6 separate regions of the Homo sapiens genome follow, and regions 1, 2, 3, 5 and 6 are each reported to be linked to region 4. The links are microRNA targets in miRTarBase. Many come from high-throughput screens and were not tested one by one. Region 4 holds a microRNA gene; each other region holds the end of a gene's coding sequence.

Region 1 (5,075 bases), not on the chromosome of region 4:
AGACTCCACAGCCCCCACCGTAGAAAAGCAGGTTTGCATCCAGCACTGAGGCACCCCCAGGGCTGGGCCCCATCCAGGGGTCGACAGCTGCTCCCAATAGCGAGAGCCGGGCCCCTGGACTGGGTGGGGTGTGGCCAGGCCATGGAGGAAGCCAGGGGCCCCCAGTGACGCCCATCTCCACCCCCAGGAGCGCATTAACTGCCTGGAAGGGACCCACGAGTTTTTTGAGGCCATTGGGTTCCAGAAGGTGTTGCTTCCCGCCCAGGATCAGGGTAAGTGGACAGGGCCTGGCTGAGTAGGGAATGGGGACGAGGGGCCTCGGGGCAGGAGGGCCCGGCTTGGGGGTCTCTCCATTGCACAGTGACACCCATGTCCTGCCACGCTGTAGAGGACCCCGAGGAGTTCTACGTGCTGAGCGAGACCACCTTGGCCCAGCCCCAGAGCCTGGAGAGGCACAAGGAACAGCTGCTGGCTGCGGAGCCCGTGCGCGCCAAGCTGGACAGGCAGCGCCGCGTCTTCCAGCCCTCGCCCCTGGCCTCGCAGTTCGAACTGCCTGGGGACTTCTTCAACCTCACAGCAGAGGAGATCAAGCGGGAGCAGAGGCTCAGGTGGGCCTGACGTCCGCGGAGCAGAGTGGGGCGGGGCGGGGTGGAAGAACCCCGGCCAGCCCTCGTGACCTGGCCCGCGTGTGCAGGTCCGAGGCGGTGGAGCGGCTGAGCGTGCTGCGGACCAAGGCCATGCGGGAGAAGGAGGAGCAGCGGGGGCTGCGCAAGTACAACTACACGCTGCTGCGCGTGCGCCTCCCCGATGGCTGCCTCCTGCAGGGTGGGCACCAACGATGCCCGTGGAGGGCGGCTCGGGTTGGTAGGGGGCCCTGGGCCCCACCCGCTCTGACTCCCCCACTCCCCAGGCACTTTCTACGCTCGGGAGCGGCTGGGGGCGGTGTACGGGTTCGTCCGGGAGGCCCTGCAGAGCGACTGGCTGCCTTTTGAGCTGCTGGCCTCGGGAGGGCAGAAGCTGTCCGAGGACGAGAACCTGGCCTTGAACGAGTGCGGGCTGGTGAGTGTCGGCCCGCAGGAGCACCGCTGACCCGATGCCTCTGCAGGTTCTCCTGGGACCGGCACAGACACCCCCAGGAGGGAGCCTCCTTGTTCTCAGAGCAGGGGGCCTGGGCAGGTCCCTGGGTTTGAATCCTGCTTTCCCACTTACTGGCAGCAGGGCCTCGAGCAAGTTCATAACTACTCCACGCCTCAGTTTCCCCATCAAATGGGAGCGGTGACGTGCGTTAGCTAGTGCAGTAGGTTTAGGCTTAGGTCCTGGAGTCCCGGAGGGAGAGGGCAGGAGGCCTGGGTGCGAGCCACAGCCTCCACCAGCTGAGATGGCTTCCAGGCCGGGGCATCCCCGCGCCCAGGTTGCCCGCTGAGTTCCCTGCCGCGGCAAGGGCCGACTCTCGGTCTCAGAGTGACGGCCTACCCCTACCGCAGGTGCCCTCTGCCCTCCTGACCTTCTCGTGGGACATGGCTGTGCTGGAGGACATCAAGGCCGCGGGGGCCGAGCCGGACTCCATCCTGAAACCCGAGCTCCTGTCAGCCATCGAGAAGCTCTTGTGAAATAAAAGCAGGGTTGGCCTCAGCCCTGTGGGTCTGTCTCATGCTCTCCCTGTTCCTCTCCCCGCCACCCCAGGGCCTCCAAGCCACCTCTGGAAATACTTGGCTCTGCCCCATGGGCACGGGAGGGGCGCCAGCCGTGGAGCTGTGGAATTGGGCCCCGTGGCAGAGCCCCCATCCCTTGGGGGCTGTGGGGATGCGCCCAAGCCCCCGAGGGAGAGGCCTGGGGACACCAACAAATCTAAGCCCTCCCTAGCTGCTTGGTAACTGTGTCATGAAGCTGCCGGACAGACACACGTGGCATCTCCCTGGGCAGGAGAGCAGGCCTGCAGCATGGGTCCTGTTCCCGTGTGCCGTGGGTGGCAGTGGCTGCACCTGGCACTAGGGCTGCTCTGTGGATGTGGGTGACAACGGCAGGAGGGGATGCTGGCCTTCCTGCACATAGACCTGCAGTTAGTAAATCATAAGCCCAAATAAACAGGTTGTTTGAATATAGTTTCTTGGTTCTCCGTTGAAACCGTGGGACACAGGGCAGGCCCACCTGCTGAAGAGCGGATGGCTTGGGGGCTGGGTGTGGCTCCCTGTCAAGGTGGGACCATGTGGATACCTGTTCTCAGGCCAGCACCTGGCCACAAGTGCCCGATGAGCCACCCACCTGGGGAGGAAGTCCCGTGCGCTAGGGGAGGCTGTGCTGTGCCCACAAAGGCCCAGTCCCTGCAGGGGAGGCGAGTGCTGTCACAGGCCTGGCTTCCCTGTGGCCAGAGGGACAGGGTGTCCTGAGACGGCCACATCCTATTCCTGGAACCTGCAGATGCGCAACTTCACCTGGCAAGAGGGGCTTGGGTATGATGAAAGGTCTTGAGCTGGGAGATGATCCTGGGTGGTCCGGGACCCAGTGTCCTCACAAGAGGTGGCAGGAGGGTGAATCAGAGAGAGACTGGAAGAGGCTGCGCATGGCTGTGAAGGTGGAGGAAGGGACCCCGAGCTGAGGGATGCAGCGCCTCCGAGCACTGGGAAACTCTCCAGGAGGGCCTGGTCCTGCCCACAGCTTGATGTTAGCCTGGCGGGGCATGTGTGCACTCTGACCCCCAAGCTGTGAGATGGTGACTTGCTTTAAGCCACCAGGTTTGTGGTACAGCAGCCCCAGGAGACACAGGGACTCTGCCCTGCAGTGTGGAAGGCATGTGTGCCCCGGCCCCACTGCTGACTTGGGGATGCAGGTCTGCACCTGGGGGAGGTGCCCGGGGCCTATGCTCGTGCCCCTGACCTTGCATTGGTCCCTCCCTCGCCCCCGGCACTGCCCCAGCTGGTGTGGGCACCCGGCCTGTTGAGAATGGAGGCTGTCACTCCAGTCCTGCGTCCTGCAGGCCCCAGGACCTGATTCCGGGTTGTCGGGAGCCCCTGTAAAGCTCATCAAAGGTGTGGCACAGGGGCAGCCTCTGCTTCAGGCACAGCTGAATCCTGCTTCCCAGCAGGAAGGCCTGGCCCGGGCGCCCTGCCGTCCCTGACTGGGTGGATGGAGGTAGCTGACACTTTTCCCACATAGGGTTCCCTGAAGGGAAGCTTAGGACTTCAGGTGGGGTGTGGCTGGGAAGAGCAGGACTGGCGAGCGTGACCCTCCCCGTGGCTGCGTGTGCTCTGAGCTGCTCAGTACCACAGCGGCTGTCGCCTGTCCTCCCTCGGACAGTGTGGATAAAGCCCACTCAACCTGGGGCGGGGAGGAGGTCACCTTCTAGCTCCAGCACTCGCAAAAGATGCACCTGACCTGGGGTGGGCTCTCACAAAGCCTCAGACTCGAAGCCAAACTCGGCTCCCAGCAGCTCCGGGTTCAGGGAGGTGACCCTAGCAGGTCTCTGGGAACACCCTCTCCTAACCCCCCAACCCAGGGCAGGAGGGATCGCCGGACAGAAGCACGTGCGGAAAAACCCGCACCTTGACCCAGGTCAGCCTGGTATGAGGGTGACTTAGTGACAAACAGATGGGACGGTGCTGTTGCAGGGCACAAGGCTGGCCCCAGACACCAGGCACCACATGGGGCCGGGCCATGGGCAAGGTGCACTCTCAGAGAAACACAATGTTTTCGGAAAAGACAGACAGAGCAGCTCAGGGCTAGAGAATAAGTTTATACACTGCCTCGTTAGGTCCAGGGGCCCGCGCACGTGGCCAGGCGGGTGGTCCTGACGCTTCAATTCATTTACAAGTATTGGATTCCACGCCTGCTCCTGTGCCCGCAGGCTTCCCCAATAGGCCAGCAATCTCAATAATGCTTTATTAAAGGGCAGATTCATATGCGGCTCTTGGGGGAATTTTTACAAATATCAAAGGAACTAATCCAGCATCCTATATAGAACTCTGCACACTTTGGGGAGGTCCGTGAAGCAGGACAAAGTGCTCTTTACACAGGAATTGAGTCGGTTCAAGTATCTGCTCTGTGGGGAGGACACCCTAAGCATTCTACATACGTCACCCCTGCTCTCAGGATGCACCCAGTGGGCTCGCGGTCAGGGTGGCCTTGCCGGTGTCCACCCCCACACCACCCCCAGCTCCGGAAGCGGCTCCACACGGGGCTTGGACCTCTGCAGGGCAAGAGAGGGAGGGTCTTGAGCTGGCTGGGCCCTCTGGGCTCCCTGGGGGAAGACCCCACCCTGCTGCCTCATGGGGCCTGCAACAACCCCAGGGCGGGACCCTCCACCTGACAGTGGGGACAGGCAGAGGCTGGGGCGTTGTGCCTCTTCTAGAGGTGACCTGCTCACCTGCTCTCAGGTTGACCCTGCCTGCCCCCCACCACCCGGGCACACTCCTCCCACGCAGCCTGCTGCAGGGCCTCTGTACTTCCTCTTTGGCGAGTGCTCCAGAAATCCACCTGGCCCTCCCTTGCTGCCTCAGTGCAGCCTTCCCTGACCCCCATCTAACGTCACAACCACCTGAGACTCCCAGCATAGGCCCTTGTGGCTCTGCGGCCAGAACGATGCCTGGCATGGTCAGCACCCACGGCCCAGCCCGCCCGAGGATGTGGCAGGGCAGGAGCCACTTCCAGCTGCAAGCCCTCCTGGCTGCTCACAGTGGAGCTAGTCTTAGGCAGCCCCATCCCTTCTCTGTTGAGGTTTACCTCCAGCGCCCACCTCACCAGTGCGTTCTGCTATCTACAGCCCTTCTCACCCGCAGCATCCGGGACATCCACGATCATACAGTCGCCCTCCTCCTCTTCCTCCTCCTCCGTGTCTGCCTGGAAGCCGTCCATGTCTTCAGCACCAATCTGGACAGACAGGGTACACGGCCATCAGCACTGCAGGCAGCAGCCACCCTGGTGCCAGTGCGGTAGCGGGGGGAACTCCACAGGTGTGACACCTTCCTCCCACCCCCAACACGGAAGGAAACCAACATCCAGAACCCAATTTGGTAACAAACTGTCCAAATGTGAGAGGTTTATTCAAGAGGCCACAACCAGAGAACCTTGGGGGTTCCCTC
Region 2 (5,075 bases), not on the chromosome of region 4:
AATAACCATCCTATGACTAGGAATCACCTGGGAATCTTGTTAAAATGTAGTCCTAATTCTTTGTCTGGGGCAAGGTTTGAGATTCTGCACTTGTAACAAACTCCCAGCTGATGTTGGAGCTGCTGGTCTGTACTTTGTGTAGCCATGCCCCAAGAAAGTTTTTGTCACTAACTCTGTGGGTTTATTTCTTTCTAATGATCCACGAGTAAGGTGGTGTAAAGCAGGAGTAACTGCATGAATGAAAACCCTTCAAACATTAACTCACCCAATGAGAATGGAGACACTTATGCAAACAGTTCTGTGAAAGTCAGTACTCAAGTTTAAACCACCCGGGTTGTTGCCACTTGACTCTCACTTGAAAACTTGGCAAACGAAGGCTTACCCTCTCTTCCTCAAGTAGTCAGAAAGAGCCTCATGGAAAAACACGGACGAGTTTCTTTATTCCCATTTTAAGGGCGAAAGAACTGAGGCCCAGGAAGGCTATACACCTTTGTAAGAATCGTATGGGTGGAGGGTGTCAAAAACAAAACCTAGCTCTCTTGAAGTTTGGCCTGGGGAGTTTTCATGTTGACCAGATTGCTTCTAGAAGAAATATTATCCCCAGCCTTCCTGAACGTAGAGTTGGCATCTCCTTTATAGATTAGGTAATTTTTACTTGCATCTTGCCATGTGGGCGACAGTGCCTTCAAAAACCCTGCCTCCTTCCAAGACATGCTGGCTTCTCATTATCTTTTTTTCTTCCTTTCTTTCAGGTCTGCACTTCTTGTTGTGAAGGAAATATCTGTAACTTGCCACTGCCCCGAAATGAAACTGATGCCACATTTGCCACGACGTCACCTATAAATCAGACAAATGGGCACCCACGCTGTATGTCAGTGATAGTGTCCTGCTTGTGGTTGTGGTTAGGGCTCATGTTATAGTGGCTCAGTGGCTCCATGTGTTAATAGCGATCCATGGGGATCTCGATGGTCCACAGACCTGCATGAGTCATTGGCCTGACAGTAATTACACATGTGAGACACAACACTCTTGGAGGTCATCACAGCCAAGCATTGCCACTTACCATGAGGAATAAATGTTGCTTCATTGTAGCCATTTTGAGTCTAACCGAGACTCATCAAAGCCTTCTGTCAGTACAGCCCAAGTTCCATACCATAAACGTTTGTTTTCATTCCAAGAAGTAGTTCTGCATTTATCGAGATCTGGGGTTCTTAATTTGGAAGAATACATGCATGAGATGCAGTAGGTCCTGAGACTGTAAGATATTAGGAGTATGTTATAGGGGCATGTATAGATGTGGGCTTTTCAGGAGAAAAGTAACCATTGGTTTAAATATAATCATGAGTTCATTTGTAGCTTTAGAATTTTAAAACATTGACTCCAAACTGAATGGACTATTTCCTTGGAAATTCTGACTGAGTCCCTGGAAGAGTAGTAATTCCAACAATTCCAGCCATTTGTTCAATTAATTTTCCCAACATTCTTCTCCCAGTGCTGGGAATCACATTTCCTCTGTTCTGTGCAGAAGACAAAAAGGCAATCATAAAAGTTTGTTATATTTGTGGGGGTGCCTGGAGGAGGATTTTCCTCAACTTAATGGAGCCACTGTCCATAAAGTGGCTGTTATCCCTTCATATAATTGGTGAGATCAGCCTTCTCCTTGACTTGGCACCTAATTATGCTTCATGAGATCCTAGATTCCACCTGAGTCAATTGTGTCCAGAGCCCCAAACCAGGATGGAGTTGTTTTCCCCAGATATGGGGTTCTATTCAGCCATAGATAATCTAGACAGAGGATTTCAGAATGAAAGGAAAAATGTGTGGAGATTAGTCCTAGTTCATTCTGAGGGCCGACTAAGTGGCTCAGCCAGCTTCTTACTCCATCTGCAGTTCATACTGCCAAAGAGCTCCCACTTCCAAATCCCCAGTGACTTTATGGAGAAGATTCTGCATTAAATTGTCTTTCGAATGATGGGGAAGCAAGGCATAATATGCGATGATGAGGAGAAAGTAGACCAGTGAGGTGATTGCAAGACTAACAAGGAGACTCAATGGGAAGTTTTTCTTTCTTTTAGATATTGCTTTTGAAGTAGATGGTAAAATTTTTGTCATCCTTCTTGTATTTTTTGTACCCCAAGTTACAATTTTTCTTCTTCCTTGTAAATAATTTAAACAGTATTTATTTTTGTAAGGCATAACTAGAAACTAAAATATATTCTAAAAAATTCATTATTCTGAACAAAGTGATCAAATTAGAATACATATTTTTCAACAGTGGTAGAGCTTTTAATATATGTTTATTGAAAGTTATCTATAATACTTGCACCAGTGTTGAAAAAAGTTAACATGTAGGCAAGAGCAATATGTTTGTCTCAAGGATTTTTCCATGGTTTCCTCAGTGATGGTGTCCTGGAATTATTCAGGTGGTGACCATCACTGGTCTAAGTTTGTGTGCAGGGTTTTCAGATGTGTTTTTGTGAAACTTGGTAGAACCATGGCTAATAAAGAGGACAGTGTTGTCAGGGTCCATCTGCCCTCCATAGAAAAATGTCTCTGGCTCATAAAATGAGACTCCCTCAGGGACTAAATATGAACTGACAGCAGTAACTCTGATACAGAATAATCTAAATTGCATCAAATGGCCTTAATTCAGAGTTTGTTAGGCTTATCAGTATGTTGCTTTTAATTGGGGTGGGAAAGTAGAGGGAGAGAAAGCAAGACATTTATTAAGCACCTCGTATGTGCCAGGCACTATGCTAAGCACTTTACATAAGTTAGGATTAATCCCTGCAAGAATCCTATAAAGAATGTTACTAGCATTTACACTTCCCAAATGAAGGTACCAAAGCTCAAACGCAATGTTGTGAAGCTGTTTCCTTCAGATTTAGGTTATGTGGGATGATGTGGGATTGAAGAGGAAAGAAAGGTGGGATTATCCCCCTAGGAAGACTTTCAGGCCTGACTTCATAGGAATTCATCCATCTTATCATGTGGAGTTTATCTCACCCTGCTGTTGCAGGATGCTATTTGCATGTGTCCCCAGGTGATGTTTTTTCTTTGGGGAGTAGGGGTTTGGCTTCCTCATTCATCCCTCTTGCTAAAAGAGGAGATAGTTGATGTTGCATCTAAAGATGCTATAAGACAATGAAAGTTTGATGTTGTACATACCTACAAGTACCATTTTTGTGCATGATTACACTCCACTGACATCTTCCAAGTACTGCATGTGATTGAATAAGAAACAAGAAAGTGACCACACCAAAGCCTCCCTGGCTGGTGTAGAGGGATCAGGTCCACAGTGGTGCAGATTCAACCACCACCCAGGGAGTGCTTGCAGACTCTGCATAGATGTTGCTGCATGTGTCCCATGTGCCTGTCAGAATGGCAGTGTTTAATTCTCTTGAAAGAAAGTTATTTGCTCACTATCCCCAGCCTCAAGGAGCCAAGGAAGAGTCATTCACATGGAAGGTCCGGGACTGGTCAGCCACTCTGACTTTTCTACCACATTAAATTCTCCATTACATCTCAATATTGGTAATGGCTTAAGTGTAAAGAGCCATGATGTGTATATTAAGCTATGTGCCACATATTTATTTTTAGACTCTCCACAGCATTCATGTCAATATGGGATTAATGCCTAAACTTTGTAAATATTGTACAGTTTGTAAATCAATGAATAAAGGTTTTGAGTGTATCTTACCAGGCTCCTCCCTGCAAATGCACATGTCAATCAATGATTAATGCACCCAGGTTATGTACAAGGCACTGGGCTTAGCACCACAGGGAACTTCCTTCCAGAGGCTTGCTTTCTAGTTGTGTAGACAAGAATACATGCATGAGAAGATACAAGACAATTCACCCATGCCAAATGATTCATACAGGCTGTTTAAGTACTGCAGAAAATAAAAGAAGGAAAGGCTACCAGACTTTTCAATAAGGTCTACAGCTTCCCAAGAGCATGTCTTTGTTAAATCAGGAAATATAAAAATTATGTGTGTATGTGTATGTATATATATATACCACCCTATTAACTATTTTAAAATCGTATTCTATTTTGGGGGTTGTGTTAATGATGATGAACCAGAAAAGATTTTCTCTTGATGGTTTCTTCAACAGGAAACAGATATTGGAATAGTGTACATGTCATTTTTATCTATACAATGAATTTATTATATTTTTCTTAGTAAAGTGATAGACATTGAAAGCAAGCTTGAAAAATGTCAGTTTGTTTGTGATTCCTGATTATTCTTCTCCTCCTCTTTTTTTTTGTTTCGTTTTTTTGAGACAGCAGGGTCTTGCTCTGTTGCCCAGGCTGGAATGCAGTGTCACCATCATGGCTCACTGGAGCCTCAAACTCCTGGGCTCAAGTGATATCCTCCTGCCTCAGCCTCCCGAGTAGCTGGGACTACAGTATAGGCATGTGCCACCACACCTGGCTAGGTTTTAATGAAATGTCTTGCAGAGACAGGATCCAACTATGTTGCCCAGCCTAGCCTCAAACTCTGAGGCTCAAGCAATCCTCCTACCTCAGCCTCCCAAAGTTCTGGGATTATAGGTGTGAGCCACTGCACCCAATCTCTGGTTATTTAATTACCTATGTTTTGAAATTTCCAGGGAAATCTTTTCCACAAACTTATATGTTTTCTCTTGGTCTGAATCAGTGACACAGTTGGTCACTGATGCTCCTTAAAGTGTGGTACTTACATGAAGATAGCTCTTATTGCTGATCTCCGTGGATAGTTCTGTCTTTAATGTAAGTGGTATTGCAGGTGGACTGTGCTTTTAGAAAATTTGATTTTGAAGATACAGACTTACATGTTTACTTAATGTGGGTTTTTTGTTTGTTTGTTTGTTTGAGACAGAGTCTCACTCTTGTCGCCAGGCTGCAGTACAATGGCATGATCTCACACTTACTGCAACTTCTGCCTCCTGGATGCAAGCAATTCTCCTGCCTCAGCCTCCCAGGTAGCTGGGATTACAGGTGTCTGCCACCACGCCCAGCTAATTTTTGTGTTTTTAGTAGAGACGGGGTTTCACCATGTTGGCCAGGATGGTCTCAATCTCCTGACCTCACG
Region 3 (5,075 bases), not on the chromosome of region 4:
AAATGTGTACTATAGTATTCTTATTCTCTCCTATTACAGCTCAGTAAACAATTTGCCTTCCATGTCCCAACTGTAATTTCCACTGTTTTTCACTGGTTTATAATGCTCAGTAACTATCCACTGCACCTGAATATCCGCCTGTTCTTTTGTTGCACTGATCAGATACATTCCTTTTAGGGTACTAAATTTGGATCTTTCTTCTTTGAGCAGGAATATTCAACGAAGCAGCTGACCAATCTGGTGAATGTTTGCCTGGGATCCCATATCAATAAGAAAGCAAGACAAAAACTTCTAGCAGCTATAGATGATATAGACAGACCTAAAAGATAATGAACACAGCTCTCTTTCCTCAATGGCATTGATCCTCACTCAACATATATGACCTGAAAGCCAGTTTTTTTATGCACTTCTGACAACTATCTGCTAAGAAAACTTTGTGCATGTTTTTTTGACTGGAAAGTGGAAAATATTGAAATGTGTGTGGTGTTCTCATGACTTTTATATGCTGTGGTCTCTTCAACTTTTGGTCTCATTTGTTGTAATCTGAAATGATGTTGCCGCCTTGTCATAACAATGGTTATGTGACTACAGTTATACATTTTACAGAAGAATGTACCATAAGTATATAATTAGAAGAACAGTGGCTTAATATATGTATGGGAAGTTTATGGAAAATGAAGTTGGCACTTTTCTACCCTCTGAGCTTGGTTCTTAATAAGCATAATGTGAGGGTGAATATGTAGTATCTCCTAATTATGAGCACTGCATGAGAATTAAAAAACACATGTAAGTAAAATAGTTGAAAAATCAGTATGTTCTCTGTTTTTAAAATGTCAAAGTTTATGTCAGGGTTAATTTAGTTATAACAAAGTGATCATAATGGTGAAATTTAATAAATATACTCTAGTATGATCAGCCTATGTGAGACTACATTTTGATTTTTTGTGTGGCATGCAGATGTCATGAACTATAGTGCAGCTTTTAGTGTGTTCTAATTTTAATTGTTTTATATCCTGAAACCAATGGTGAAAAGTAATTTCATTGAGGGTACCTTTTCAATGCCTGAGTAGCATACAGAATCATGATTATGAGACTTTCTTTTATCTTTCTTTATAAAAATATGTGGTTTTTTTGTTGAAAGTTTTGGTCTCTTTAAATTCAGATTTTGTCTTAGGACAGTAAAACCCAGGTTGACTGACTCAGGAAACAGTTGTCTGCTAGTCACTCATAAATGTACGGTCATATGTTCACTCTTCTTAAATATCCACCTTTTATAACACAAATGTAAAATAGTATCAGTCTAGCCAATGATGAACTCTGGAATCCACTTAGTCTTCAGTAAGTATGTGCTGTTCCTCTAAACTTTGCCCTGAAGCCAGGGATCTTCTCCTAATGTATGTGACATAAAAATCCATTTTCCATGTACTCTTGCCAACTGTCTGATAAGGAATTTTGTGTGTGTTCTTTCTGACTGGAGAGTGGAGGACATCTAAGCTTGTGTGGCATTGGTCCAATGATTGCCATGCATGACCTGTAACATCAACAGCTCACAGAATCCTAAGGAATCATGTGAGAAACAGGCCTTGGGTCTTATGAGTCTTCTGGGACCTAAGGTGATAAAATGGATGGCACAGAATGGCATGTGATCAAGCATGGAGGTGATAAGGAAACAATTGCTACTCTGTGTCCATCAGTCCCTGCGATGTCTGTAAATGCACAGTGTAATGTGAAGCACTTTCAGAATATGTTTGTGTGTGTCTGTATGCTGAGTGTTTTCTTTTCATCCTCTCATGTCGGAGTTCATTTACTGTCAATTTAAAACTTTCCTCTTGTAAAAAGGTATGAGTTTGGTGCCATTATGATTTGGTTGTGGCTAGATTATATACTTGTGAAGTAGATTCTGCCTGTAGCCATTATTTATATGCAGCCACTTGAAGAAAACAAACATGAGATAAGCTTGGTCCTTGAGTTTAAATGGCATATTTAGCTGGGCACATAAAGAGCTAATCAATCTTTTAAAATTTGCAGTTGATGAAGAGCTGCTTATTTTTCTCTTCTACATGGATTTTATAGTTGGTTTCCTTTAATTTCTACTTTAGTTGGCCCTAGATAATATGAACAGGAATCACCTGCCTGGTAGAGCCCAGTGTTTTCCAAGGTAATAGGAATTGATACAAAAGAATTACTTATCTTGTTAGAGACTCGACCATGCAATCTGACAGACCTTTTAACCTACCCTTACTTTGCTTTCTCCATCTTCAAAATGAAATGGTGGATCTTTTTAATGCTTTTTGAAAAAGGTTTTTTTTTTTTTTTTTTTTCATTAAAAGGTAGCTTAATAAGTGCTAGCTAGCATCAAAACAGTAACAGGAGGTTTGAGTCATGAAGTTACCTAATCACAAGAGAGTTACCAGACATTTCTCAAATACTTTATACAGTAATATTGAGTTATAACCATGTAACATTTTATGAAACTAATTTTCAGATAAATACAATTGAAAAGCTGAGAATGTAAATGGAATTATACGTGTTCCAAAAACTATCATTACCAAAAATTTATTATTTTTGAGTCTAAACTTTCCTTAACTTTGACATTTTCCATGAAAGTTTCCTGTAGAATTTACCATGGGAGCATGGTAAATTAGCATTCCCTGAGAAAGAATGATCATTTCTACAAATACATTGTCTTGCATTTAAAAATGCTAGGGGGGCACATAGCAATTCAAATGAACTAGTTTGCTTTGGTTTATAAAACCAACAGAGATTTTGTAAGTTCACTTTAACTAATAAACTCATTTACACAACTTATTAAATGAATTTCTCTTGAAACCAGGGCCATATGGTATTTTATCATATCTTTAAATAAAATTTCGAAATTTCTATTTAGCTGAGTGCTAAAGTGAAACTTTGTTAGATTAAATAGCTTTTTCTTAACTCACCAAAAAGTAGTAAAAGGCTTGTAATTCAATTCACCTTGTAAGCATAGTTGTCTTTTGTAATAAAAAACTAGATCTGAAGATGAATTGATGAATACAAGTTGTGCTCAAAGCACATAGAAGTACAGGGTGGGGGGGATTTCCATATATATACATATATATATATTATATATATATTTCTTTTTGGAATAATTTTGATTCGGATTAGTGGTTAACAAAATGATATTTAGCTTCTGACAATGATTAATGATGAGAATTATTAATAGTCTGGTATAATCTTTGTAAATGTTAAGACTGGTGCAGCTTTCTACAGATTTTTTCTTATTGTGGAAAATATTTGCTCAATTCCTATCATCCACAGCTTTGTAAAGGCTATGAAAAAGTTTAAGCAGCACAGCTCTCACAAGGACAAAACTGTTAGATTTATACAAGAGAACTGTTAGCTGTTTCAAAATGAATGGAGAAAAATAATTCATTTGCTTTGATGTGCTTTTCTTGATTGACATATCCTTTTTGAATATTGCTAAGTATACTTAGATCATTTTTTCAATATGAAAACAAAACCACAGCTAAATATTCTCGTTCACTTAGAAGGATCCCTCTGGAATTTTAGTACTTTATTGATATGATTAATATAGAACTCTTTTTGGTGTTTTTGATAACCATTTTTATAAGTTAATTTAGACATCACTTTTTGATCCCAAGACTGAGAAGACCTGGCCCTGGTGAGGATTTCCAAATTTGCCCTGTAGGTATTTTTTCACACTGAGCTAAGCCTTTCCATCCAGGAAAGGGATTTTCTTCATCAGTAGTTTTTGTTTTACTCTGTTCCTTCCCAGTCCTAGGTACCAAAAGGATTTCTGCTTTAAAGAAAAGGCATTTCCACAATGTGGGCATTTTAATCCAGCTACACCAAATAGCAAGCATGCTAATCTTTGCCCAAAAAGAAAGGACTTTGTAGTCAGGGTGTCCATTTTGACACCACTCAGTACTAGAGCCTACGCTAAAGTGTAGTGACACCATCAGGTAACCACTGGGAGACCATTTTTGCTGGCTACCTGCTATCTGCCTTACCTTACTTCTGTTATCCCTGCTTTCCTAATCACAATCCCACCTTTAAGCACCCAAGCAAGATGCTATCCTTTCCATGAAACTTATCCTTCCCAAGGAGAGATGTTGTGGAGAAAAATCAATAGGGAGTGGTGGTGGTCACAATGGTAGTATAACTTAAACAAGGATGGTGGCAGAAGGCCTCCCTTGAGAGGAAGGGAAGAGGCTTGCCATGCAGATGTCTGAGTGAGTGTAGCAGGCTGAGAGAATGTCAAGTGCAAAGGCCCCAGGGTGGAGGCTGCTGTCAGAGAACAGCAAGGAGGGCAGTGTGGATGGCATAGTAAGCAGAAGAAAGTAAAAGCAGAGAGGATGTGGCAGGAGGGGACACATACGGGGAAGGACTTTGGATTTCACCTTCAGATGGAAGCATTTGAGGGGCTGTGAACCAAGTGATGACCTGATTTGTGACTTAGGGTTTACCAAAACCACTCTGTGTATTTGAGAAAGAGCTAGAGAGGGACAAAAAGCAAAGCAAGGAAACAAGCTAGGAAACTAATTTGGTAAACCATGCGAGGCTAGGATTGCAGTAGCATTGCGGGATATGGTGAGGGGTGGTCAGACGCTGGACATATGTTGAAGGTAGAAACAAAATGATTGGTATTTGAGGAAAGAGTGTGCTTAAAGACTTTCTGGAGGAAGTAGAAGTCTTTGGGAAGACTGGGTTTGTGAACAAGATCAAGAAAACAGTTTTGGACAGGGAAGTTTGAGATACTTGGAGATAAATTATTGGATGTGTAGGAGAGGGTAGCGGCATGCAAGTCTGGAGTTCAGAGAAGAGGTCAGAGCTATAGATGTCAATGTGGGAGTCATCAGAATATAACGTAAAGCCAAGATTTCTTTAGGAGGCAGAAAACTTACAGGCATAGGAAAGTAAAAAAATTTAAAAAGGCACTACTCCCCCATCCCCTTGCCATTGTTTCCATGAAAGGTGAGACAGGACCAGGATACTGTGCTGGAGGGACAGTTTTCTAGAGCAAATATAAGAACATCTTGCCACCTAGGGACCTACCAGGACCTTTGGACATTGTA
Region 4 (5,075 bases):
ACATATGAAATGTTATCAAGGCAGAAAACTACATTAATTTCGACTTTAATAAGATGTAACTCATACAACCACTAAGCTAAAGAATAATCTGAAGTCTCAAGTGGGCATGATGATCTTATTTCCATCAAACACTAAAAACTGGCTCTGTGCAGATTGAGCTCTCCTTACCTTTACTGCTCAGTTGAGAGGCTCTTAATTCTCTAAAGTTAGACAAACTATGCAAAACTGTCAATTAAACAGTGTATCATTAAATACATAATAAACTTTAATGTGACACTGAGTTGTTCTCCAGGAAGTTGCAGGCTGCATTTTGTCAGGAGTCAGTGTGTCTTCAAACTACAGGAGAAAACCCAAGTCTGGCTTGTAGTTAGACAGGTCTGCCTGTAAAATGAAGATCTCAAAAGTTTTCAGTAAAATCACCAACACTTTGCAAGCAGCTTTAAAAAGAATTCCTAAAATGTTAAGTGCTTTCTTTCCAAATATAGGCTAAAAATAGAAAGTTGTACATGCAAACGCCAAAAAAAAAAAAAAAAGTTGACCCATTTTTTCCCCTCCAAATAGTTAAGGCTATTTATTAAACCTAAAGCAACATGACCTCTTAAGTCTCAAGCAACTTCAAGGTTAAAGCATTTTAAGAACAAGGGTCAAAGTTGTTTTTTCTCAGGTCAGAGATGAGGCCATTATCAACTTGCTCACTCATCTGAATTTCAAAATGGCTAAATTAACAATGTGAATCTTTTTATACAATACTTACATGGCTTTTTGTTGGCATGTTAGCATGCCTAAGAAAATCTTAATAGAACCAAGAATGTAAAATTTGCCTCACATTCTAAAGCCAGAAACAAATCAAAAGCAATTCCTATTAAACCCTATAGAACCACAGATCACTACCAAACCCACAACAAAACATACACATTTATTAACTTGTTTATTAGATTTAAATCTCAGTTCAAGCCCAATTAAGTTCTGAACACAATGAATACTAGTTTCAGTCTCTAGGGAGAAAAGCCATTTAAGTCTTTGTTATTAAAACATATTTGACTTACATTTTAGAATATTTAAGAAATCATCCAGCAGGCTTCCTATCACACTGTTCCAGTTTTTAAAAAAATTGCTAGTGTATCTCCCCAAAAGCACACCATTTTGCAAACTACCAGACCATGCTGTATTATGAAACTTTTTTTTTTTTTTTTTTTTTTTTTTTGCGTTTAAGTCTTGGTCTTGCGCCCAGGCTGGAGTGCAGTGGCAGGATCTCAGCTCACTGAAACCTCCACCTCCCAGGTTCAGGTGATTCTCCTGCCTCAGCCTCCAGAGTAGCTGGGATTACAGGTGCACGCCACTGCACCCGGCTAATTTTTTATATTTTTAGTAGAGACAGCGTTTCACCATGTCGGCCAGGTTGGTCTCGAACTCCTGACCTCAGGTAATCCGTCTGCCTCAGCCTCCCCAAGTGCTAGGATTATAGGTGTGAGCCACCGTGTCCAGCCGGAACTTTTTAAGCATAGTTTGAAAGCCACGTTTGTCACTAAATAACCAAAAAGACACAATTATTAGGTCTCCTTCAATTCAAAAAGCTTAAGAACTCTGCTAATGTACAATTTGATTTCCATTTTATAAATCACTGTTCATTTCACATCCTGAAAATTTATGTTTTCATCAACTCCAGAATGATAGAATTCTTACCTTTCTATTCAGGAATCCAAGGCTAAGTTCCTTAAATTTCTTAAAGAACACATTAGAGGTGAAAACTTTTGTTAGACTTCAGACAATATTTTTAAAAGCTGATTTCTAGATTTATTGGGTGGTCTAACCTAGTGTTATGGAAGTTTATTTCTTATTACTAAGATAGCCTCTTTTACTCCAAAATACAATGACATTTCTCAAAACTTATCTTTCAAACATCAAGTTTGCCTGTACTTCAGCTTGGGCCCAATTTTACCACTTGGTCCTTTTAAATCTATTATTCAGGTATCCCACATTATTCTACACAAATACACATAGGCTAGAGACAAAAACACATGAAGAAAAGAGAGAAGGCAGAAATGCTGGGTAAAACACTAACTGCCACTTCTTAGTTTCCACTTCAGTGACTTTAAGTCAAATAAGCCTGGAATCAACTATCACTGTTGCCAAAGTCTGGCTTACGTAGGGAGTAGGGAACATAAATGTTAACTACAGACTTAGAAATAAATGAATATCTGAATCTCACCCCACCGCTGCACTCTTGGCATTTGGGAAGAGTGTACACATACATTTAACTGTTACTCTATTTAGCATTTGTTCTTTTTCTAACTCCCATTTTTTTAAGTTGCAGATGCTAAAAGCAGTCTGAGGACCTTGGTCATTTATAGCTTATAAATCACTGACAATCAGAAAGAAAAACTAGTATACAAGCATTTAACAGTTACACTTCAGTTACTCATGTATTGGTAAACTGGTACTTGCTTAATAGAAACAAATTGTACCCCAACCCTAAATTCCATGCTTAAAAAAACTCATCTTTACACATTGCTTTAAACAGAGCGGCATTCTCTCTAAATTTAAATACTTGAGTAATATATGAGCAACATAAATTAACTTTTAGATTAAGTAAAATATCCTGGAATAACACTAACTCCAAAGAAAGCAAAAAGATATACTCTAACTTTACAGATGATCATCAGGTATACAGTATGTTTAGTCATATCGCAATACTTAACAGCCAAATAAATCTAACAACAAAAAATATAGCCAGAATTTATACTGCCAAATCTGACACGCAACCCCAAAAGTGAAATGTTTTTGAATGAAAACAAGACAAGATGTATTTACACAAAAAGTTACACATTTTCTTTAATATTTCATGTATCTTGTACATTTAACAGTGGAAGTCGAAATCTTCAGTAATATTTAATTTTCAAAATCTTCTGGTCACAATCCCCACCAAACTCAACAGGCCGGGACAAGTGCAATACCATACAGAAACACAGCATTGCAACCGATCCCAACCTGTGTAGAAAGGGGTTTGAGTTTCCCTTACTTTTCTACAGACTTTTCACTACCACAGTCAGTTTTGCATGGATTTGCACAGCAGAATATCACACAGCTGGATGCAAACCTGCAAAACTAACCATAGAACAGTGTTCAGTAACAGGACAGTTTGATTGGGCGACAGGCCGAAGCTGGAGTTCTACAGCTAGCAGTACTTTAAGTGCTCATAATGCAGTAGATAACTAAACACTACCTGCACTATAAGCACTTTAGTGCTACAGAAGCTGTCACATCAGATAGACCAGGCAGATTCTACATCGACACAATAAAAGTACACAAAATTAGTAAAAATCATTCATTTGAAGGAAATAGCAGGCCACCATCAGTTTTGCATAGATTTGCACAACTACATTCTTCTTGTAGTGCAACTATGCAAAACTAACAGAGGACTGCAAACAAAAACTATTAAAACACCTATATACTTGCTTGGCTTGAATTATTGGATGAATACATAACTTCTTATGCCAGAAGGAGCACTTAGGGCAGTAGATGCTAATCTACTTCACTATCTGCACTAGATGCACCTTAGAACAAAAAGCACTCAACATCAGCAGGCCCTGCACTTTAAAGCCCAACTTGGCTTCCCGAGGCAGCTGTCACCATAATGCTACAAGTGCCTTCACTGCAGTAGATGCACATATCACTACCTGCACTGTAAGCACTTTGACATTATTCTGACTGGTCACAATCTTCAGTTTTACAAGGTGATGTTCTCTTTTTTCCTGCTAAATTTGAAATAGATAATTAGAATTAACACCTCAAACTCTAACAACTATAAACCATACAAATTCAGCATAATCCCTAATGGGGAAGAAAAAATTAGTTTAATTATCTCAAAGATATGAGGTCCATTTAGACACGTATTTATGCCTTAAGAATTCTTTACAGAAGGCAATCATAACCAACCATCCAACTAGCACTGGAAGTGGTGGCTCTTCCAATGGCTGGCCTCTCCCAAATGGATTGACACATAGAGAAAAAAAACAAAACAAAATGAGACTGCAAATAAATGAGAACTAATTTTGGAACATTTAAAGGCAATTTAGTCCATGTGTACCTTTTAGAGGAAATCTTCACATCCACGTGGCAAAACATTTTCCTCCTCTTCTGGCTTCCACTTAGCAAATACTTGTTGAAATGATTAACAAAATTACTGTTCAGACTACACTTCAAGTGTTATCAGTCAATTGTAGCAGAACGTAAATATCCTGTTTAAATCTATCATCTCAGGTTATATCTACTTTATCACCCAACTTAAAAGAGGGTCTAAAATTATATTTCGTAAACTGCATAAGCCAGTTTCCAAAAATGTACAGGAATATTTACACTGTAATTTTACTACCTTAAAATTAGCAAATCCGTACTTAATGAGTTAGTTTTTCAGAAAAGGTACATTGTCTAAAGAAAGAAACACCTACTTTTACTCTCTAAGAAACCAATCCTATTTATTCAACTTTAATAGCAAGAAAAATTTGTTTTTAAGAAAAGTTCAAGAAAATCAGAATACACTTACCCATTCCAGAAAACTTCCTTTTCAGCAAGTATTCTCAGAAAAGCTACTGGTGCAGTTAGGTCCACGTGTATGACTGGAATAGGGAAAAATAAGGAAAAAAAAGATAAAACATTATTTGCTCAAAATTACTACCACCGTCCAAATCTATATTTGCTATTTTCCAACCTCCTAACAGCAATTAATTCCATCCATTTGTGAGAGTAAGAGTCGAGCAATACTAGCAGGATTTAAAAGCCCAATAATTTACAGTTGAAAAATACGTAAGAGAATAAAGTTGAAAAATCCTTAGCTATCAGATACATGTCTAAATAAGCTCCTAAAATACTTGATTATGATCAGCAGCAATCACCGACTCCACTGTACAGCTCCAGTAAAAGGAAAAAAAAAAAGCAGCCCACAGACTATTCTTCACCACCCCTCCCCCAATCAAGACCTCGTGGCTGCAAGCCGGGATAAAGAGTTGTTTCTCCAACTGCTGTGGTCCTGATGGCATGCCGTTAATTTTCTCTTTTGGTGATATTGCAACGACGAG
Region 5 (5,075 bases), not on the chromosome of region 4:
ACAATCTTGGTTCACTGCAACATCTGCCTCCCGGGTTCAGGCGATTCTCCTGCCTCAGCCTCTTGAGTACCTGGGATTACAGGCATGCGCCACCATGCCCCACTAATTTTTGTGTTTTTAGTAGAGGAGGGGTGTCACTATGTTGGCCAGGATGGTCTTGAATGCCTGACCTCAGGTGATCCACCCATCTTGGCCTCCCAAAGTGTTGGGATTACAGGCGTGAGCCACTGCACCCAGTCTTACATTTTTTTACATTGTATATTCCTTAGCTTTTCAGAGCTATTATTTTTGACTGTCTTTCAAATCTCCAGTATGAAGGTTACAAATGAAAATATTTAATAGTCAATAGTCTGTGTTTAAGACATAGTAGTATTTAAGATACATTTAATGTATTTATTAGTATTTAAGACAATAGTCAATAATCTATATTTAAGACACAGAAGAAACTGAAAGTGTAAGATTTAGAAACAAGAGAATCCCCACCCCAAAAAATTAGAGATTAAATGATCTACATGATAGATAACAGAATACTATGCATGGATTGCTTATACTCTAAGGATTCCTATTCCTACTATAAGGAACTTGGGGACTAAACTTGAGCCAGTTCTTTCCTGTGTGCCTCAATTTTAATATGTGTTTCAAACTGCATTTGGAATGTTTCCTACCCAAATAACAAAATCTTAAACATGAAGCTAAAATTATCCATGTGTGTCACAGTCACCCTTACGTTGGGTCAGGGAACTCTAGCTTGGTCAGTTAACTGCTGGCAACAGTTCCTTCTTCAATTCCATGCCCCTGAGGACTCTTAATGGTTAACATTATGACAAGACAGGATGTATGTGACCCTCAGAAAGACCACGACATTCTACAGCAGAATGTAGATATATCCAAGGGCAAGATGCCACACCTGTGATGGCAAAATACTCTGAAAAGTCAAACATTCAGGTGTTATAACTTGTATGAGATCCTGATTTAATGGACATCTGCTAAATTTCCTCTGTCCATGTCTTTTGGAGACTGTCCTTCCTGATGTAATCCTCACAGAGGTGACCATAACATGTGCCTCTCTTGCTTCCCAATGCTGGGAGACAAAGAACCCCATTTCCTTGGAAATACAGATTGGATTACGGCTGGCTCCAAAACCAACATGGCTATTCAGTCCTTTTGGGGAACTGACATGGACACTGGGAGGAAAATAGTCTCTCTCCTGCCACTGAAACTACATGGACAATGGAAGCTTGGAGATAATGGCCATTTTCTGAAAAATTAGACCATGCTTGAAAAAAAGCCATTATGGAGGAAATCATTATGGAGGAAATCAAATCCAAAAATTACATGCTTGAATTTTCACTCCTTTGAACTATTACTCCAGCCAATAAAATCCCTGACCGGATTTCTAAACTCGGAATGACTGAATTTTCTGTTTTTCATCTGAACACATCATACTAATGTAGATTGTTAGAATCACAGCACAGTGGAGTACACGAAAGAAACCATGTCTTCTCACAGTGACAAAAGCTGTCATGTGTACGAATATTAAATAAAACATACTGATTTTTATATACTGACTCTTCTGTACAGAAAAAAATCTTGCATTTTTTATACAATGTTCCGGTAAGTTTATTTTAAAAATTAGGAAAGGAGAAAACAGTGATGATTATGTGAGCCAACAGAATTGTTTAGAATAGTGCCAGATACTTGGTAAAAACTTAATGTTGGCTTTTTAAAATAGATCGACTCAATACTAAGCTCAACATACAAAGCATAACTTAACATCTAATTGGATGGCACTTTAGAAAAATCCTCTGCTTAAGCCTGAAGGAAATGTTAATGTTTAAAAATCTCAGGCCAGGTGCAGTGGCTCACGCCTGTAATCCCAACACTTTAGGAGGCTGAGGCAGGTGAGGTCACTTGAGGTCGAGTTTGAGACCAGCCTGGCCAACATGTTGGAACCCCATCTCTACTAAAATTACAAAAATTAGCGGGGTGTGGTGGTGGGTGCCTGTAGTCCCAGCCATTCGGGAGGCTGAGGCAGGAGGTTGCAGTGAGCCAAGATCATGCCACTGCCCTCCACCTGGGCGACAGACTCCATCTCCAAAACATTTATTAATTTATATACTGTTTTTTCAAAAGTGATGAGGTGGTTTAGAAACACCAAATAAAAACATGGGTAAAATCTTGGCCCATCAATTACTACCTTTCTAATCTTGGGCAAGTTTACTAGCCTCTCTGAGCCCATTTAAATGAGTCTGTATATAAAAGCACAAAGTCTCTATTGCATACAAAGTGCTCAGTATTTATTCCTATTATTTCAGGAAAATACCTTTAATATTACCTACCAGTTTTGTATAATGGTTACAGAAATTCTTAAACTGTAGCTATCATCTTGTCTAGCTTACTGATGAATACACAAAATGCCAATGAAGTGACTTACCATGTATCACTAACCGGTTTAATTAAAGACAATGACAAAACTAGAACCCAGGTTTCCTTAAAAGTACTTTTTCCTCTCTACCACAATGCAGATTTAAAACAAATCCTCAGGCTTTAGTTTTGTCATTGTAAATAAAACTTCTGTGAATGCAGGGAAAGATACTACATGCTGGTATGAATATGAATGCAGTATAACTATAGTTTATTATATCCTTTAAGAGTAAAGTGCCTGTGTTGTTCTTTTCAGGCCAATATAGATTAAATGTAAAACTGTACTATGTGATCTGGTACACAGTACAACTGTTGATACTATAAAAAAATCAAACATTCAAATATTCCTAATGTTTATAAAGGCCAAATTCCAAAGGCCAAAACTCCAGGTGTAACTCAAGAAAAAATTCAAAAAAATTATTTCATAAACTGTTTTCTTGAGCGGCTCTATTTCTATGTTATAGTTGGTTACCACTGGGAGAACTGGACAGTTAACTTAAAATACAGAACTAATACAAGAGGGTTAAAAGTCCATTTATGAAGTAAAGTAGAAAGCATGTACAAAGTCGTTCACTTACAGAAGACTAAAACAACAAATAGAAAACCTAAATAAACGATTCTGTGATCAGAGTAGACTCAAAATGTTATCAGGTGTATAAATACTTAACCAAATTATTAACATAACTCTGTGTATCTTATGTTAGAAATAGAAGTAAGCTTTTAATGCAACAGGCCTAGGTCAATCATTTCTGCTAAAGTGTGCCTCAAAAAAAGCAAATGGGGTTCCTAAAATTCCTGAACAAAAAGCATGCTTTTATGTCCATTATTGCATAATAAAACAAACCTGCAATTGGATAAGAAAAAGATACAAAAGATAACCGTCAATCTTTACCAATTTATTTTATACAAAACAGTAGCAATGTAGAATATGGGAATCGTCTTCCGCTGCCACGCACGCAAGTTGTGAACATTCCAAGCCAATGTATACAATTTGGAGGGGAAGGCTAAACAATAGCATCAACCACGCTACTGAACATAGGAATTTTTCATTTAAAAAGATTAAAAATTAGATAGCAATGTCTTCTTAATATTGCTCTCGTCATTGAAGACTGAGGAAAAATAAAAAGTGACTTTATAAGTTTTTTAAAAAAAGAGGCAATGGGGAAAAAAACAAGAGGCTGCTACAACACTGCCATACAGTCAAACCATCATACTTCAATATTTGCATACTCGATAGCAGCATTATTTTTACTGAACCGTGTGCAACTACATGTAGAAACACATCAAAGCAAAATATCATGGCAGTTATCAATCAAGATCCAAAAAGGAAAAAAACAAACAAAAAAATAACTCTAGGATGAACACACTATAAGAACATTTATGGAGAAAGAATCAGTATCTACATTCTTGGACTGTTCCATTCTGCCCCAATAAAAGTGTCAATTCAACTGTCAGCTGTGGATTTTTGGCGGATTTGAGTTTTTCCAGTTCTTATGATACTGCATGCTTGGAACAAAGGGGGTCATAATAAATCCTTCTACACAATGAACTTCATAGGCAGACAGCTGAAAATAAATTTACTACTTGTAAACACACACAAAAAAAAAATACAAGATTTTTTGTATCTTTAAACAATCAGTGCTTCCAAAAGCCCATTATCTTCTATATCGACCTCTCTCCCCTCGGTCTCTGTCTCGATCACATAATCGCTCTCTTTCTCTTTCTCTATCACGTCCTCTATCTCGCTCTCTGTCTCGTCTGTTATCTCTAGGGCGGTCTCGCTCTCGTTCCCGGTCTCTTTCACGGGGTCTACTTCTCCGGCCACTGACAACAGCTTGTGTGCGACGAAGGAAATCATCCACCCTCATATCATAATCATGCTAGAAAAGGAAAGAAATGTGTTAGGTATGTCAAAAAGGCAAATAGTGTTAAGTGGATCCCTGATTTGAAAAAAAAATTTATATAAACAATTTTAAAATATAAAAAAAGAAAAGTCTCTGTATTATAATCGGCGGAGAGAACAATCCAAAGAAATGCAATAATAAATTAATTCACAGAAGGTAATATGCTGACATGGTTTAGAAAAAGGATGATGCCTCATTAGACATCTACAACAGATTATTCAAATCTCTTTATGCAGTTTTCCACTTAACTTTAATGACTTTTCCATCTGATCCCTTCAGTAAGATTTAGGCCAAAGATATTAACTAGTGATGACCTTCAACTATTATCCATATATACTGCCAATTATGCTAAATGTCATCAATGTTTTTCTGGCACAGGCTAGCTCTACATTTTTCCTCCAATTCTACCAACTTCAATTTTACAAACTGAGTATTATGTTCCAGATTTTCTTTCAAACTAAATTGTTACAACTAAGTTGATGTGCAAGAAAAGTTGTGGCTGCTCCTAAACTTGGCCCCTGCTCTAGTTTAAACTTTCTACTCTTAGTTCTCAGCTTACCTTACTGATTTTGGTCTTCTCTCAAAACTTAGCTGAAATAAGATTTGAAAACACAGTCCCACATTACCTTTTATATATGTGATTATGTAAGTAGAGAATATGTATACTAACCAAAAAATCACTACATAAAGATCCATAAAATAGAACTTGTTAAAAAGGATATAGTTGAGGAAAACAAAAAAATCTCA
Region 6 (5,066 bases), not on the chromosome of region 4:
CCCAGATTCTCACTGCCTTCCCTGCCCTTAGGTTTGTGGAAGAGCAGGGTCCCAATTCATCTGCCACTTTCATGGTGTCATGCCTCAAAGAAACCGTCTGGATGAAGTTCTCTACACCCAAGGAAGAAAAGCAATTTTTAGAGCTCCTGAACTGCCTGATGAGTCCCGTGAAACCCCAAGGGATTCCAGTGGCTGCTCTTCTTGAGCCAGACGAGGTGCTGAAGGAATTTGTCCTGCCTTTCTTGAGGTTAGATGTTGAAGAGGTAGACCTCAGTCTGAGGATCTTCATCCAGACTCTAGAGGCAAACGCGTGCCGAGAGGAATACTGGCTCCAGACCTGCTCCCCGTTTCCACTCCTCTTCAGCTTGTGCCAGCTCTTGGACCGCTTCAGCAAATACTGGCAGCTTCCCAAGGAGAAGCGGTGCCTCTCTTTGGATAGGAAGGATCTAGCGATCCATATCCTGGAGCTCCTGTGTGAGATTGTATCAGCCAATGCTGAGACCTTCTCCCCGGATGTCTGGATCAAGTCCCTGTCCTGGCTCCACCGCAAGTTAGAACAGCTAGACTGGACTGTGGGCCTGAGGCTGAAGAGCTTCTTCGAGGGGCACTTCAAGTGTGAAGTGCCAGCCACACTTTTTGAGATCTGTAAGCTTTCAGAAGACGAGTGGACCTCCCAGGCCCACCCAGGGTACGGGGCTGGCACGGGGCTCCTGGCCTGGATGGAGTGCTGCTGCGTCTCCAGCGGCATCTCGGAGAGGATGCTGTCTCTCTTGGTGGTGGACGTGGGCAATCCTGAGGAGGTCAGACTGTTCAGCAAAGGCTTTCTGGTGGCCCTGGTGCAAGTCATGCCTTGGTGCAGCCCTCAGGAGTGGCAGCGCCTTCACCAGCTGACCAGGAGACTGCTGGAGAAGCAGCTCCTCCATGTCCCTTATAGCCTGGAATATATTCAGTTTGTTCCCCTGCTCAACCTGAAGCCCTTTGCCCAGGAGTTGCAACTCTCCGTCCTCTTCCTGAGGACTTTCCAGTTTCTCTGCAGCCATAGCTGTCGTGATTGGCTTCCTCTGGAAGGCTGGAACCACGTGGTCAAACTCCTCTGTGGCAGTCTGACCCGCCTCCTGGACTCAGTCAGGGCGATACAGGCAGCTGGCCCTTGGGTTCAAGGACCAGAGCAGGACCTGACCCAGGAAGCCCTGTTTGTTTACACCCAGGTGTTCTGCCATGCTCTGCACATCATGGCCATGCTCCACCCGGAGGTCTGTGAGCCACTCTACGTTTTAGCCTTGGAAACCCTCACCTGCTATGAGACTTTGAGCAAGACCAACCCTTCTGTCAGCTCCTTGCTCCAGAGGGCACACGAGCAGCGCTTCTTAAAGTCCATTGCTGAGGGCATCGGCCCTGAAGAACGGCGCCAAACCCTGTTGCAGAAGATGAGCAGCTTCTGACTTGGCGTGGGGAGCTGGGCCCCAACATGGCGGGTCTGCAGAAGATCAGCAGCTTCTTACCTGTGCGGGAGCGAAAAAGCTGGGCTTCAACATGGCAGGTCTGTAGGGGTCAGACCCGAGCAGCCTGGACTTTACAGTTATGTGAAACTGTCCACAAAAAGTCATGGCAATAATGGTGTAAAGAAAATAGTTTCTTGGGTATTTGTAACGTACAAACTATCATAAAAATTCTCCTCTTTCGCATCTCACTTTGTCTCTTCTAAGTCGGCCTCAGCAATAGCCCAGGATTAAATATGCTCTGAAATTGGGTTTAGTGTCTTCAAGATCAAATCCAGCCAGGAGGAACATGTTCATAACTGGACTTTTCCATCCTAGATTTTGGCAAATAAGCCCAAAGTTGAAACCATGTGAGTGGAAAAAGCATTACATGGTACGTATAACCCCCTTCAAGAGTTATTTCGTCTTTTAATGTTTTTTTCTTGAGGTATCTTGGAAAGGACAGCAGCTTGGAAAAGAATCCAGTCCAGCCCTGGCTCTGCCTCTGGCCATGAGACTGCTGTGCCCGAGAGGCCTGCACAATTCTAAAATGAGAGGATTGGAGGACCAAGATAAACTCAGTGGCGAGGGGCTAGGTTAGTGACCTCAAGAAAATGGGTCCCCTCTGAATTGAGGAGTGTGTACAGTCTTTGTTGCTCAGACTAGCCTTGAACCCCTGGACTCAAGTGATCCTCCCACCTCAGCCTCCTGAGTAGCTGGGACAATAAGCACACCCACTTCCCATACAGTCTTAACTCCATCTATTCAGTCACCCCCAAAGGGGCTACTGTGAAGACGAGACCTGGCAAACCCAGCAGAGATGTGCTGAATGGATGGGTCACGTTAGCTTTTGCCTCAGGAGGGGTTGTCAAGATTTGGATGAATGAATGGTTTGGATAAGGGAATGATGTGTGCAGGAACATAAAAAATGAGTTTGGGCCAGGTGCGGTGACTCACACCTGTAATCTCAGCACTTTGGGAGGCCGAGGCGGGAGGATCACTTGAGACCAGCCAACATATGGAAGCCCTGTCTCTACAAAAAAAAAACCACAAAAATTAGCTAGGTGTGGTGACACACAGCTGTAGTCCCAGCTACTCAGGGTTCTAAAGCAGGAGGCTCACTTGATCCTGGGAGGTAGAGGCTGCAGTAAGCTGAGATCAGACCACTGCACTCCAGCCTTGGTGACAGAGTGAGACCCTGTCTAAAACAAAAAAAAAAAAAATTGAGAGTGGGCTAGGCATGGTGGCTCACACCTGTAATAATCCCAGTGCTTTGGGAGGCTGAGGCAGGAGGATCACTTGAGGCCAGGAGTTTGAGACCAGCCTGGGCAACAGAGATAACCTGTCTCTACAAAAAGAAAAAAAAATGAGTTTAAGGTGTCTGAGGTATGAGGAAACTATGAAAATTGGCTGGGGACATGTTTAATGTGTGAGATGAAAGGGGGAAAAAATATGTCCCATCACTCCCTCCATATCCACACCCTCCTTCACAATGGGGCATTACTCAGGTTCTCCTCAGGTAAAGTAGGCTTGGCTCCCTGACCAATAATCGGTCTTCCACTCTCCCAATTCCTAGTAAGATTCACTTATGAAGAGAAGAAACGGTCTCAAGTTACGTGTGACCACTACGCTTGAACTCTGGGAACCTTCAATGTATTACTGAGACCATGAACCACAAAAATAGGTTTGAGTGAGGTGTGAGCTAGACCTTTCTGGAGGCTGAAAGCATTCACACACACACCCCTCTGCTAGTTACATGGACACAGACCTTGAGCCACAGCACACGGCAGCCAGTCGAGCTAGGTCACAGGATGATTCTTACAGGACACTGATATTGATGTATTTCACAAATGAGAATAAGTTGGGAATGTTAGTGCAATTTAATCACCGTAAGGGTGACTTTTAAAGATACACTGATAGTTAAAAAAAAAAGACAATTAAAAAATAGCATTTTGTTTTTTAAATGGCACCCATTAAAGACTCAACAGTCAAAATGAGACAAATCAGTCCTTTAGACGTTCACAGACAATTGAAAGGCACTTTAAAAATCCACTTTTTAAACTACCACTTGAGAACACATGGTAGCACAGTCTTAAATTCATCCTAGTTGATCGGGAATGATGAATGAGTGTTGGCACCAGAAAATCCTGCTTGCAGAAGGGGGCGCAGGTGTCGGTCCACGGGACAGCCACTGGCCAGGCTAGCTGCCGCCTCACTCCGCAGCCTTCTGTGGCTAAATGGCAGGACGGACACACAGGAATGGGCTTTGGACCACAAGCTCTGGCATATCGGGAGGCAAAGCACTCAAGTACTCTGCAGTCTAGATGACACATTTCATGGTTTGGAGGACAGAAGTAGGTTTCCACATCACATGAAAAGGACAGTGTCACAGTGGGGTTACCCAGTAAACAGCTACCAAAGCCATCATTTCACGCTTCCCTGTAGTTTTATGAGCTCGCCCTCTGCATGTGGATATGGGGAAAGCCGGGCATGAAGGGGTGTGTGAAAAAGAACAGCCTCTGTGACTGACTGCAGTAAGCTCACAAGTTTGTCACTGTCAGACTTAGCAAGTCAGCCTGCAAAGGTTGTGCTGATCTCTTGGCCACACTACCTACTCAGGTTCCCATCCATGCCTCCTGCCTGCCCCCACCCCCAGCCCCACCAGTGAGACTTCTGATTGGAAGTCTATAGACATAAGAATTCAACTCTGACCCATGGATGAGAGGATGAGGCAAAGAACCAATGGGTTATCTAGTAAACGATCAATAACTACCTACCCACAATGATTGTCCCAGGCCAATGTCACAAGACGACATTACTTCCAAGAACCAAGTCATCCCTTGCTTCTGCGGGCCCAGTGCCACGGGTACTGTCCTGAGTGGTTTGGAAGGTGGGTAGCCGCTGATACAGGGACAGGCAGATGTGCAGACACTTACCACCCTGGTCCACCGATCCCACCCCATGCTTCCACCTCCCAGAGCTCTTGAGATAAGACCTTAAGAAGGATCCTTGGGCTTGCATTAAAACCACTTTGCTGTCCGTGGAGGTCTGACAGGACCCAATAGTTGTTACTACAAAAGTGCTTTTGCAAATAGGGCAAGTTAGAAGAAGGAGGTAATATGAATATTCTTTAGAAAAACTCAAATCCATCGGCTTATCAATACCCAAAGTCTGAGGCTACCCAGGGCACAATTTGGTCCATGGAATGCTGAGTGGAGGAGGCAGCTGGTGTGAGGCTGCGCCTGACTCCCAGGAGCATTTAGCCATCCTTTTTGGCTTGGGGAGTGTCAAAGAGCCGGACTGCCTTCCTGCACAGCAGACAGAACCAGTAGATCTGAGGAGCTACGAGGAAGGCATTGGCCACGTTGCAGTAGAATGGGATGCTGAAGGGTACTTGGAGCAGGCTTAGTCCCTGCTGGCGGCCATAGGACCAGTACATGAAGGGGAAGAGAAGGATCCGGCAGGAAAGGAAGGTGGCCAGCGTGAGGATTCCATTCACCTTGTACAGAAGGGTGTGCTGCTGCTTTAGCTGCAATAGAAGAGGAAGGAAAAAGGTAAGGTCACCAAGAAGCTGGGCATCAGGGAGCG

What was found. Region 4 holds the annotated microRNA hsa-miR-20a-5p (UAAAGUGCUUAUAGUGCAGGUAG, at 3,220-3,242, opposite strand). A microRNA usually pairs through its seed, bases 2 to 8, with sites in the 3' UTR of a target mRNA and lowers its output. Matches are read on the target gene's strand: a 7mer-m8 pairs with bases 2 to 8, a 7mer-A1 pairs with bases 2 to 7 and ends in A, and an 8mer does both.
Region 1: the mRNA of CHAF1A is a reported target of hsa-miR-20a-5p. Seed matches in the 3' UTR shown: 7mer-m8 at 3,993-3,999.
Region 2: miRTarBase lists LYPD6 as a target of hsa-miR-20a-5p. Seed matches in the 3' UTR shown: 8mer at 2,761-2,768.
Region 3: miRTarBase lists VPS50 as a target of hsa-miR-20a-5p. Seed matches in the 3' UTR shown: 7mer-m8 at 684-690, 7mer-m8 at 1,732-1,738 and 7mer-A1 at 2,776-2,782.
Region 5: miRTarBase lists YTHDC1 as a target of hsa-miR-20a-5p. Seed matches in the 3' UTR shown: 7mer-A1 at 3,178-3,184, 8mer at 2,655-2,662 and 7mer-m8 at 2,284-2,290.
Region 6: the mRNA of TLCD3A is a reported target of hsa-miR-20a-5p. Seed matches in the 3' UTR shown: 7mer-m8 at 4,555-4,561.

The regions. Positions count from the first base shown.
Region 1 is chr19:4,442,033-4,447,107 of GRCh38, reverse strand. It overlaps CHAF1A (chromatin assembly factor 1 subunit A), which reads right to left. Exons shown (of 15, transcript NM_005483.3): 14 at 4,767-4,863; 15 at 3,711-4,183. The coding sequence ends at 4,083. It overlaps UBXN6 (UBX domain protein 6), which reads left to right. Exons shown (of 11, transcript NM_025241.3): 7 at 188-272; 8 at 389-608; 9 at 695-825; 10 at 911-1,059; 11 at 1,485-2,102. The coding sequence ends at 1,610. It overlaps MIR4746 (microRNA 4746), which reads right to left and starts at 1,130; the gene lies at 1,060-1,130. RefSeq lists silencers at 2,564-2,732, 2,842-3,136.
Region 2 is chr2:149,469,931-149,475,005 of GRCh38, forward strand. LYPD6 (LY6/PLAUR domain containing 6) reads left to right here. Exons shown (of 5, transcript NM_194317.5): 5 at 753-4,208. The coding sequence ends at 920. Among named protein-coding and RNA genes, the nearest start is that of MMADHC-DT, 110 kb to the right of the region's middle.
Region 3 is chr7:93,358,107-93,363,181 of GRCh38, forward strand. It overlaps VPS50 (VPS50 subunit of EARP/GARPII complex), which reads left to right. Exons shown (of 28, transcript NM_017667.4): 28 at 211-3,017. The coding sequence ends at 330. Among named protein-coding and RNA genes, the nearest start is that of MIR653, 120 kb to the right of the region's middle.
Region 4 is chr13:91,349,239-91,354,313 of GRCh38, reverse strand. MIR20A (microRNA 20a) reads right to left here and starts at 3,249; the gene lies at 3,179-3,249. MIR17HG (miR-17-92a-1 cluster host gene) reads right to left here. Exons shown (of 3, transcript NR_197388.1): 2 at 4,544-4,616; 3 at 1-4,158. MIR17 (microRNA 17) reads right to left here and starts at 3,709; the gene lies at 3,626-3,709. MIR18A (microRNA 18a) reads right to left here and starts at 3,563; the gene lies at 3,493-3,563. It also overlaps MIR19A, MIR19B1 and MIR92A1. RefSeq lists enhancers at 4,494-5,041, 5,042-5,075.
Region 5 is chr4:68,310,020-68,315,094 of GRCh38, forward strand. YTHDC1 (YTH N6-methyladenosine RNA binding protein C1) reads right to left here. Exons shown (of 17, transcript NM_001031732.4): 17 at 368-4,304. The coding sequence ends at 4,080. Among named protein-coding and RNA genes, the nearest start is that of YTHDC1, 38 kb to the right of the region's middle.
Region 6 is chr17:741,242-746,307 of GRCh38, reverse strand. It overlaps TLCD3A (TLC domain containing 3A), which reads right to left. Exons shown (of 5, transcript NM_024792.3): 5 at 3,340-5,007. The coding sequence ends at 4,738. GEMIN4 (gem nuclear organelle associated protein 4) reads left to right here. Exons shown (of 2, transcript NM_015721.3): 2 at 1-1,887. The coding sequence ends at 1,442. Among named protein-coding and RNA genes, the nearest start is that of GEMIN4, 8.5 kb to the left of the region's middle.